Linked DNA regions of Homo sapiens: region 2 is linked to region 1. Evidence: fine-mapped expression QTL. A gene starts in region 1. The other region holds a variant in brackets. All regions are shown on one strand. Distances are between the middles of the regions. Region 1 holds the start of ACTR1A (actin related protein 1A). Region 2 overlaps ARL3 (ARF like GTPase 3).

Region 1 (5,374 bases):
CAATATGGTGAAACCCCATCTCTACTAAAAATACAAAAATTAGGCCGGGCGCGGTGGCTGACGCCTGTAATACCAGCACTTTGGGAGGCCGAGGTGGGCGGATCACGAGGTCAGGAGATCGAGACCATCCTGGCTAACACGGTGAAACCCCATCTCTACTAAAAATACAAAAAATTAGCCGGGCGAGGTGACGGGCGCCTGTAGTCCCAGCTACTCGGGAGGCTGAGGCAGGAGAATGGCGTGAACCCGGGAGGCGGAGCTTGCAGTGAGCCGAGATCGCGCCACTGCACTCCAGCCTGGGCGACAGTGAGACTCCGTCTCAAAAACAAACAAACAAACAAACAAACAAACAAACAAACAAAAATTAGCCAGGCGTGGTGGTGCACATCTGTAATCCCAGCTACTTGGGAGTCTAGGCTGGAGAATCTCTTGAACCTGGAGGCGGAGGCTGCAGTGAGCTGAGATCGCACAATTGCACTCCAGCCTGGGTGACAAAGCGAGATCCTGTTCCCTCCACCCCCCCACACCAAAAAAAGAGGCGTCTCTGCCAGGCACGGTGGCTCAGGCCTATAATCCCAGCACTTTGGGAGGCCAAGGTAGGAGAATCGCAACAGCCCAGGAGTTTGAGACCAGCCTGGACAACATGGTGAAACCCTTCCTACAAAAAATACAAAAATTAGCCAGGGGTGGTGGCGCGTGCCTGCAGCCCCAGCTACTCGGGAGGCTTAAGCGGGAGGATCACTTGAGCCCAGGAGGTTGAGGCTGCAGTGAGCTGTGATCGCGCCACTGCATTTCAGACTCAGCAACAGAGCGAGACCCTGTCTCCAAAAAAAAAAAAGAAAAAAAAAATGAGCTGTCTCATTGAGCTCAATCCTGCCCCTTTCTAAGGGGGAATAATAAAAACAAAATACCCATGGAGAGAAGGAAAATTTAATGAAAACAACAACAAAAATATATTGGAAAAAGCAAGCAACTTGGAACTGGATCTTAGTCTGATGACTGGCTCCTCAATTCCTAAACTGGATGGTTTGAAATCTGTTATTTAACATCCCTGCATACACTGGGGATAGTAATTCCTATCTACCTAACAGAGCTGAAGCTTAAACGAGAACATTGTAATATGCCTAAGGTCCCAAGAGCTGAATCAACAAAGGGAATCTGACAGAGTCAGCTTACAACAGAGGGAACTGGTAGTTTTGCCTCAATGGAGGGACCTACAAGGGACACAGACAGGGATCAATCTCTGTGGGACCAAAGCTTTGAATCGAAGGCAGAAATGCAGTCGTTTTACAATTTTCTCCTTTCCCCCCAAAATAAGAGCAGTATTTAGATTCTTTCTATTGGTCAATATTGATGCTTCTGCATGGTGGTGCTGGCAAAAGGGATGACGGATAAAGTACTGGATTTAGGGCACCTCTGCTATGTGACCTTGGGCTCACGTTACGTCTTCGCGCTTCAGTTTTCTCATCGGTAACACGAAGATCAAAGTTCCTTTTAAACTATGCGTCCAGTTTTTGTGAGGATCCAACTCGAATGTATGTGAAAACGCCCTGGAAGCGCTAGAGCGCCAGGCAAATATTAAGTTTGGTAATTTTTTCCCCGTAAGAACTAGGCGTTCCAAAGAGGAGGACAACCTCTCTGCTTCCTTTGTCACTCTCCTTTCTTCTCGACCTTTACCAACTTTGTAATTTATAATCACAGTAATAGCTGACATCCTACAGCGGTTTCTGGCACCAGATTCTCGGGCCCCACCCAGATCCACACCACCAAGCCGCAGCGCCGGCTGAGACCGAAGGAAAACTTAGCCGTTCTCCACCCGCGGGCGGGCACTCGCCTCTAGGCCCCACCACCCAGAGTCCCGGAAGCCAATCCCCACAGCCCTGGAGCACTGCCCCGCCCCTTCAAGAGGGAAAACAATATGGCGGCAAGGAAGAATGGCAGGGGCGTGAGCCAATCACCGCAGAGGCCTAGCCTCATCCGGCAAGGCTAAGAGGCGGTATCATTGGCTAAGATGGACAGCCAGAGCAACCAATAGAGCGATCGGAAATGGGGGAGAGGGCGGGCGACGGGAATCTCACACAGCGGTTAAGGCCCCTAGAGCCAAGGGCCCAAGGACTGGCTTGGACTATAACTCTTTCCTTTATCCACTCCAGAGTTCTCCATCCCACTTTTGCTGGCTGGCCGCCTTGCCTGCGGACTATGTGATAAGGGGAGGAAGGAGGCGGCGGTGGCTGAACGCGCCTGACAGGCCGGGCCAGTGACAAAGAGCCGGCGGCTCAGGCTGAACCCCGGGAAGCGATCCTTTCGAGGAGGAGAGCCCAAGTCCCCTTATAGATAGGAAAGACGCAACTCACGTTGTCGATCACGACAGGCTGGTTGGCGATCACATCGTAGGACTCCATGGCAGAGGAATCTCTCCTTCTGGGGAAGGAACTGCCCAGCCGGGTCCGCCGCTAGCGCCACTGACACGCATGCGCAGTCTAGCCGCCGGTTCAGGGCGGCGAGGGAGCGGCCCGACCTCGCCTCTGAAGAACTACAATCCCCAGCAAGCTTTGCGCCTGGGTTAGCGATCTAGCTTGCTTTGTTGCCCGCCTAGTTTAAGATTGGGAGTCGCATTTCCAATGCGCAGTACCCTGGGATTTGTGGTCTCCCTAGATTAAACAGCCAGAGACACAGGTTGATGGTCATGTTGCATGCCTGGATCTGTAGTCCCTTTGAAGGAGTTCGCAGTGCATGCTGAGGTATGTAGTCTTCTCGAGTACTTGTCTGTAGTTCGGTTTGGATTGGTCGTAATTCATGGATGTTTGGATTTTGCAGATCAGCCCTGCCACTCCCCCCGACGTTCCCTTAGACAATATAAGGTTCTCATGTTTTTATTTGGGTCTGTAAGACTTTAATAAACATCTCCTAGCACCTCACACTCTAACAAAAAGGAAATGTTAACACACGTACGCGAGAGGACATATTCCTACAACAAAGGAAAACAATTTAAATTGCATAAAATTAGCTTTAAGTTTAAAAACCTGTACATTGTCGTTGCCTTTTGCATTTTCTTTTTTTCTGCATAACAGGCTAACATTGATCCGAAGATTGGCAATTGGAACTACTGGTATAGGTAATCTTTTGGTCATTAAAACATCATCTAAGGGTTTCAGAAACTGCTCGAGTATCTCTTTAATTTTCATAACGAGCTAGAATTGACACTGATGGTTGAGAAAATGGAGGTGAAGAGAGGTTATGTGTCACTGCTTTCAAATGAGCCCAGTGCATTTTTTTCTCTGGATTATGTTCTCCCCCAGCCCCCTTGAAATTTCAGGGACCTTTTTGTCAATAGCCCTAGAAAACATTAGATTTATTATCATCTATTAATACTAACGCCCCATGGATGAATGAATCAATCCATTGTCAGATTTATGTTTAAATCCTAGTTAGCAGCGCGTCAGCAAAACAGTAACAAATCCTTTGTTGGCGCACTTCTCGCTGCTTTCGTGGGACCTTAGCACCTCAGAGGGTGCTCAGCATCTCTAAACTTGGGTTCCTCCTAACACTAGGGGGAGACCAAGAGCCTTGGGACACTCCCAACACAGGGAGGGGAGGCGGGGCCTATTGTCAAGTCACACCTTCCCTGCCTGTGACTGGCACAGACATTAGCCAATGGGTGCTTGGATAGGGTGCGCCGGCGCCCCGCCCCCCTTAGCGCCCCGCCGCCCCGAGGCACCCTCTGGCAGACTCGGCGGCGGCGACAGCCTGGGCGGACAGTGCGCCGTGCGCAGGCGCGGAGCTAGACCTCGCTGCAGCCCCCATCGCCTCGGGGAGTCTCACCCACCGAGTCCGCCCGCTGGCCCGTCAGTGCTCTCCCCGTCGTTTGCCCTCTCCAGTTCCCCCAGTGCCTGCCCTACGCACCCCGATGGCGGAGCTGCGGCCTAGCGGCGCCCCCGGCCCCACCGCGCCCCCGGCCCCTGGCCCGACTGCCCCCCCGGCCTTCGCTTCGCTCTTTCCCCCGGGACTGCACGCCATCTACGGAGAGTGCCGCCGCCTTTACCCTGACCAGCCGAACCCGCTCCAGGTTACCGCTATCGTCAAGTACTGGTATGCTCTGGGCCGCGGGGAGACGGACAGGCGCGGGCTGGAAAGGGTTAAAGCGCCGAGGGCGAAGTAATTTGTGGGAGGTGGGAGGAGGGGTAGAGAATGGTTAAAGCACTCAGAAGGAGGGCTTCTTGCTGCGAGGGAAGGAGTTAAGGCTCAAGTTGGGAATGGGGACAAAGGGGTTAACGGAGCCCGTGGGTACTGAGGGGTTAACCGGGATTAGGAGAATAGAGTGAGGACTGGGGGTGTGTGTAGGAGCAGAGGGGGGAACGGCAGGAGCGAGGGAACTGTAAACGTGGTGAAAAGAGGGGGCGCCTGTAGGGGGTCATTAGTGGGCGAGGGGAAGCCAAGCGGGGGCGGCCGAAGTGGGATGGGAGAGGCGAGGCGGGGCCTGGGGAGCATTTGAGAGGGCTTTGGAGGAGCGAAGCCGAAGAAGCTCAGAGGGCACGAGACTGCATAGAATGGGGGGTTCGGGGGGCCCAGGGCTCTCCTGTGGTGGGTAGGAGGGCCAAAGATGAGGGCCTGGTGCTTGTGGAGAGAGGAGGAGGTCTCCTTTTGATACCTTCCCGATTAGCTCAGACGTCGTATCAGGGCAAAGCTTTTGCTTTTGAAGTTTGACGGAGCAGCTCTTCCTGATAAACTTTTTGCTTACTCTGCACTGTTCTCTTTCTCCGTGCAGAGCTTCCTCCTAGCTCTGCAGTTGCTTCGCTTTAGGGCATTAGGTAGAGAGAACCATGGTTTGGCTTAGGATTGAAGGGGCCGACAGCTTCCCACCTCCAGTTGGAAATAAATGGTGGAGACTCTGGGACCCCAGCAGGGAGGAATTGTGCAGTGGGACATTAAGAGGAGCTTCTCGGCCATGGCCTGCAGTTTCTCCGGGGAGCTGAGAGTAACCCTCAAGTAGCTTTAGGGTAGGAATGGTCTTTTCTAATTTCCCATTCCTGTTTGCAGCCTGTTTCTTCCTTCAGCATTTGGGCAGAACAGATGTTCTGGGGACTCTGGAAAAGAACCTGTCCTCAAAGTCTTGCTGGACCAAAAACTGAGATATTGGTTGAAACTGTCCAGGACCACATTCATGCAGGCATTGTGTAAGATGATCTTCAATGAGTCTTGAAAGACTGTTCTGCAGCTGCTTGGGGGTGTAGCCAAAGGGTAGACCTGAAGGGGCAAGTGGACATCTTTGCTGGTTACCTCTCCTTTTAGGACTGAGTCTTCCTCCTGGTGAAAACCTGTTGCTTCCCCTGGACATCGGTGTCAGTAGGCTGTGCAGGGCTGAGGCCAGCTGCCC
Region 2 (5,374 bases), 190 kb after region 1:
CCGCGCCCGGCTAATTTTTTTTGTATTTTTTGTAGAGATGGGGTTTCACCGTGTTAGCCAGGATGGTCTCGATCTCCTGACCTCGTGATCCTCCCGCCTTGGCCTCCCAAAGTGCTGGGATTACAGGCATGAGCCACCGCGCCCGGCTGCTTCCAGAAGTTTTAAATTCATTTAAGTCCAATTTATTTCTTTCATGGATTATGCTTTTTGTGTATCTAAAACCTCATCACCAAACTCAAGGTCACCTAGATGTTCTCCTATGTTGTCTTCTAGGAGTTTTATAGTGTTTGGGTTTTACATTTAGGTTTAAGATCCATTTTGTCAAGGGCTCTAGGTCGAAGGAAAAAAGAATCTATTTTAACATTTTAAGTTAAGGGGTAAGGATGGGTCTAGATTCTTTTTTTTTTGCATGTCGATGTCCCATTATTCCAGCGCCACTTGCTGAAAAGATTATCCTTCCTCCCTTGAACTGTCATGTTCTTTTGTCAGAGAGAGTGGGCCATATTCATGTAAGCCTATTTTGGGGCTCTCTATTCTGTTCTGTTGATCAATTTGTCTACTCTTTCTCTAATGTATGCTGTCTTCTTTTTTTTTTGAGACGGAGTTTCACACTTGTTGCCCAGGCTGGAGTGCAATGGTGCAATCTCGGCTCACTGCAACCTCTGCCTCCTGGGTTCAAGCGATTCTCCTGTCTTAGCCTCCCGAGCAGCTGGGATTACAGGTGCCTGCCACTACACCCGGCTAATTTTTGTATTTTTAATACAGATGGGGTTTCACCCCATTGGCCAGGCTGCTCTTGAACTCCTGACCTCAGGTGATCTGCCTGCCTCAGCCTCCCAAAGTGTTGGGAGTGCGGGCGTGAGCCACTGCGCCCGGCCTATGCTGTCTTGTTTACTTGCTTTACAGAGAATCTTGATGTCAGGTAGTGTCAGTCCTCTAACTTGTTCCTTTTCAGTACTATGTTAGCCATCTAAATCTTTTGCTTTTCCATATAAACATTAGAATCAGTTTGTCAATATCCCCAAAGTAACTTGCTGTGATTTTGATTGGGATTCTATTAAATCTATAAATCAAGTTGGGTATAACTGACATCTTAATAATACTGAGTTTTCCTATCCATGAGCACGGACTGTCTCTTTATTTACCTAGATCTTCTTTATGAGTTTTGCAGGTTTCTTCAAGTAGGTCCTGAATGTATTTTGTTAGATTTATGCCTAAGTGTTTCATTTTGGGGGTGCTAAATGGTATTTTGCTATTAATTTCAAATTTCAATTGTTCACTGCTGATATAAAGGAAAGCAACCGACTTGTACATATTAACCTTATATCCTGCAGCCTTGGTATGATCACTTATTAGTTCTAAGTGTTTCCTTGTTGATTTAAAATTTTTTTTTTGTTTTTGAGACTTGTTTTTTGTTTTGAGACTCTTGTTGCCCTGGCTGGAATGCAATGCCATGATCTTGGCTCACCGCAACCTCCACCTTCCGGGTTTAAGCGATTTTCCACCTGAGTAGCTTACGGGCATGTGCCGCCACGCCCAGCTAATTTTGTATTTTTAGTAGAGACGGGGTTTCTCCATGTTGGTCAAGCTGGTCTCGAACTCCTGACCTTAAGTGATCCACTTGCCTCGGCCTCCCAAAGTGCTGGGATTACAGGAATGAGCCATCGCACCAGGCCTGATTTAAAATATTTTTAATTATTTTTATTTTTTTGTTTTTTTCTGAATTAAAAGAATTTTATCTTACCTCACCTTATCTTATCTCATCTTATCTTAGAGAGAGTCTCACTCTTGTTGCCCAGGCTGGAGTGACCACCATGCCCGGCCTTATTTTATTTTTTATTCAGACAGAGTCTCACTCTGTCACCCAGGCTGGAGTGCAGTGGTGCAATCTTGGCTCACTGCAAGCTCCGCCTCCCAGGTTCATGCCATTCTCCTGCCTCAGCCTCCCGAGCAGCTAGGACTACAGGCGCCCGCCACCATGCCCGGCTATTTTTTTGTATTTTTTAGTAGAGACGGGGTTTCACCGTGTTAGCCAGGATGGTCTCGATCTCCTGACCTCGTGATCCACCCACCTCGGCCTCCCAAAGTGCTGGGATTACAAGCGTTAGCCACAGAGCCTGGCCAACATTTTTTTTTTTTTTTTGAGACGGAGTCTTGGTCTGTCGCCAAAGCTGGAGAGCAGTGGCGCAATCTTGGCTCACTGCAACCTGCACCTCCCTGATTCAAGCAATTCTCTGCCTCAGCCTCCCAAATAG[C/A]TGGGATTACAGGCGCCCACCACCACGCCTGGCTAATTTTTTGTATTTTTAGTAGAGATGGGGTTTCACCATCTTGGCCAGGCTGGTCTTGAACTCCTGACCTTGTGATCCACCCGCCTCAGCCTCCCAAAGTGCTGGGATTACAGGCGTGAGCCACCGCACCCGGCCAACAGTTTTTTAAAATGCAAAAATTCCTGTCCTCACGGAGCTTACCTTACAGTGCAAGAGAAAGCTAATAAATAAAAATACGTCTGATGGCAATAGGTACAAAGAATCTGCTGATAGATCAGATGAGGGGAGTGAGGAGAGGGAGCCAAGGATGATTGCATTGTTTCCGGAGGAATGGGACTCCCATTTACTGAGAAGACTGTGGGAAGAGTAGGGTTGAGTAGAACAGGATGAAAACAGGAATTTGGTTTTAGACATGTTGAGGCTGAGGGACTTACCAGCCGCTGAAGTGGAGATGTCAAATAGGCAGCTGGCTTATATAGTCATGTGTTGCTTAATGACAGGGGCATGTTCTGAGAAATGCATTATTAGGCAATTCTGACATGGTGCCAACATCATACAGTGTACTTACACACACCTAGATGGTCTACTGCACACCTAGGCTGTATGGCATAGCCTATTGCCCCAGGCTACAAACCTGTACACGAAGTTACTGTATCGAATACTGCAGGCAACTGTAAAACAATGGTAAGTATTTATGGATCTAAACATATAAAAGGTAATGTGTTATGACAGCTATGTCACTAGGTAATATAAATTTTTCAGCTTTATTATAATTTTTTTTTTTTTTTGAGAAAGAGAGTCTCGCTGTGTTGCCCAGGCTGGAGTGCAGTGGCGCAATCTTGGCTCACCGCAATCTCCACCTCCTGGGTTCAAGCAATTCTCTTCCTCAGCCTCCTGAGTAGCTGGGATTACAGGCATCCACCACCATGCCCAGCTAATTTTCATATTTTTAGTAGAGATGCAGTTTCACCATCTTGGCCAGGCTAGTCTTGAATTCCTGACCTCGTGATCCACCTGCCTTGGCCTCCCAAAGTGCTGGGATTACAGGCGTGAGCCGCTGCGCCCGGCAGCTCTATTATAATCTTAAGGGACCACTATCATTTATGAGGTCAGTCACTGACCCAAGTGTCATTATGTGGCACATGACTGTATATGAAACTCAAGTTCAGGGGAGAATTCCAGGCTAGAGATGATAGTTTGAGATTCATAAGCATCTAAGTGGTCATTAAATCCTTCAAATTAGACGAGGTCACCTAAGCAGTGACTCAGAGAAGAAAAACACAAGGACTCCGGGGCTCTCTAACATTTGGAGGTTGGGAGATTAAAAAAAAATAGCAATGGAGATTTAGGAGGAGTAGCCAGTGAGGAGGAAAACCAAGATAGAATGGTGTCTTGGAAGCCAAGAAAAGACAATGTTTCAAAGAGAGCATGACCAATGTTAAATGGCCTGATAGGTCAAGTGAGATGAGTACTGAAAACTGAACCCTACTTTTAGCAATGTGGAATTATCAGTGACCCTGAAAAGAAGGCTCAAGAGTAACTAGGAGGAGATAAAGCAAAGACAGAGAGCATAACAAACTCTTTCAAGGAGTTTTGCTATAAAGGGAGGCTGAGGAATGGGACAGTATTGGAGGGGGATGTATGGTCAGGAGGAGTTTTCTGGGGCTTATTTTTTCTTCATTAAGCAAGAGAAGCTACAGGATATGTTTATGTTGATGGGAATGATCCAGAGGAGAGAGACACTTAGGAAACAACAGCAGAAGGTGAAGCTGTTTGAGATGCAAGATGATTTCTTTTTTTTTTTCTTGTCTTGAGACAGAGTATCACTCTGTCTTCCAGGCTGGAGTGTGGTGGCCTGATCTCAATCTGGGCTCACTGCAACCTCCGCCTCCTGGGCTCAAGCGATCCTCCCACCTCAGCCACCCCAAACTGCTGAGATTACAGGCATGAGCCACCACACCTGGTCTAGATGATTTCTATTCGTAATAAAGACATAGATATGGCTGCTATTATTGCAGTTTATTGCCTTTCATCATAATTGATGTAAACGCAAACTTTTGGTTAGAGGTTAGTAAAAGCGACATGCAATTTTTCTCCCATCTAAGTTCATGAGCCCCCCTAGTTTTAGGGTATGATTATGCAAGTATGTGGCTGAGGTAGAGTAGATGACAAGACCATTGAAGGAGGGCTGGTGAAGGAACTGAGAGGCTGAGGTTTTGTGGAAATCATGTAAGTGGACAGTGAAATCTCCAAGAATTCTGAAACTGTGATGGTCCTAAAGGAAGTGACAGCGAGCTGGGAGCTAAAATCTCGGCCTCCACTTGAATGAACGCTCCCTGAGTCAGGGTATTCCCAATGCACGAGGCAGCTTCTCCTACTACTGGACGATTGTAATTATAGGAAACTTCTTCCTTAATCTGAATTACATTCTACCACCTAACATTCCCCATCTTGCTCTTGGCTCAGCCCTCTAGAACTATTCAATCCCTCTGACTTAAGATAATTCTTGAAGCAGCCTAGACAGTTCCCAGTGTTCTCTTTTCCAGGAATAACATTCTCAGGTCTTTCAACCACTCCTTACACATCATGGTTTCCAGTACTTTCACTATTTTGCTTGCTCTCTTTGCAATACACTTGATTCGTTGTCTTCCTAGGGGTGACAGTCAGTGGCATGATCTTCTGACTTCCCTTCTGCTATTCAAATCACTATGGCAATTAATAACACTTTATTTTGCCAAGATGGGTGTGGGTACAACATTGTTACTGAGCGACAGCAAAACATCTTATACAAGTTATACAAAGATGTTTTTCCTTTATAATCTGTAGCCTTCTGCTATCCCTGCTAAATTCACAGTGATTAATGTTATGGTGGTGGAATTACTGACAAGAAAGAATGTTACAGTGTCCATGTTTCTAACACATGGCAGAAAATACTATGAATTAGTGCGTCAGAAGGAGTACTTACAAGAATATCGGTATTTTCAAAATAATTCTTCCAGTATGGTCTGATTTTCCTCTGTCCACCAATGTCCCATACATTCAGTTTAAAACCTTGTGATTGTACACTTTTGATGTTGAAACCCTGAAACAGGGACAAAAACATCAAG

The links.
Region 2: its variant is fine-mapped to the expression of ACTR1A in whole blood (INTERVAL, PIP above 0.99).

What each region holds. Positions count from the first base shown.
Region 1 is chr10:102,500,246-102,505,619 of GRCh38, forward strand. It overlaps ACTR1A (actin related protein 1A), which reads right to left and starts at 2,467. Exons shown (of 11, transcript NM_005736.4): 1 at 2,355-2,467. The coding sequence starts at 2,402. It overlaps SUFU (SUFU negative regulator of hedgehog signaling), which reads left to right and starts at 3,727. Exons shown (of 12, transcript NM_016169.4): 1 at 3,727-4,089. The coding sequence starts at 3,908. RefSeq lists enhancers at 451-951, 2,346-2,445, 4,914-5,374 and silencers at 2,796-2,865, 3,543-4,012, 4,327-4,621.
Region 2 is chr10:102,694,141-102,699,514 of GRCh38, forward strand. It overlaps ARL3 (ARF like GTPase 3), which reads right to left. Exons shown (of 6, transcript NM_004311.4): 3 at 5,233-5,349. Among named protein-coding and RNA genes, the nearest start is that of ARL3, 18 kb to the right of the region's middle. The variant C/A (reference allele first, on the strand shown) is at 2,256.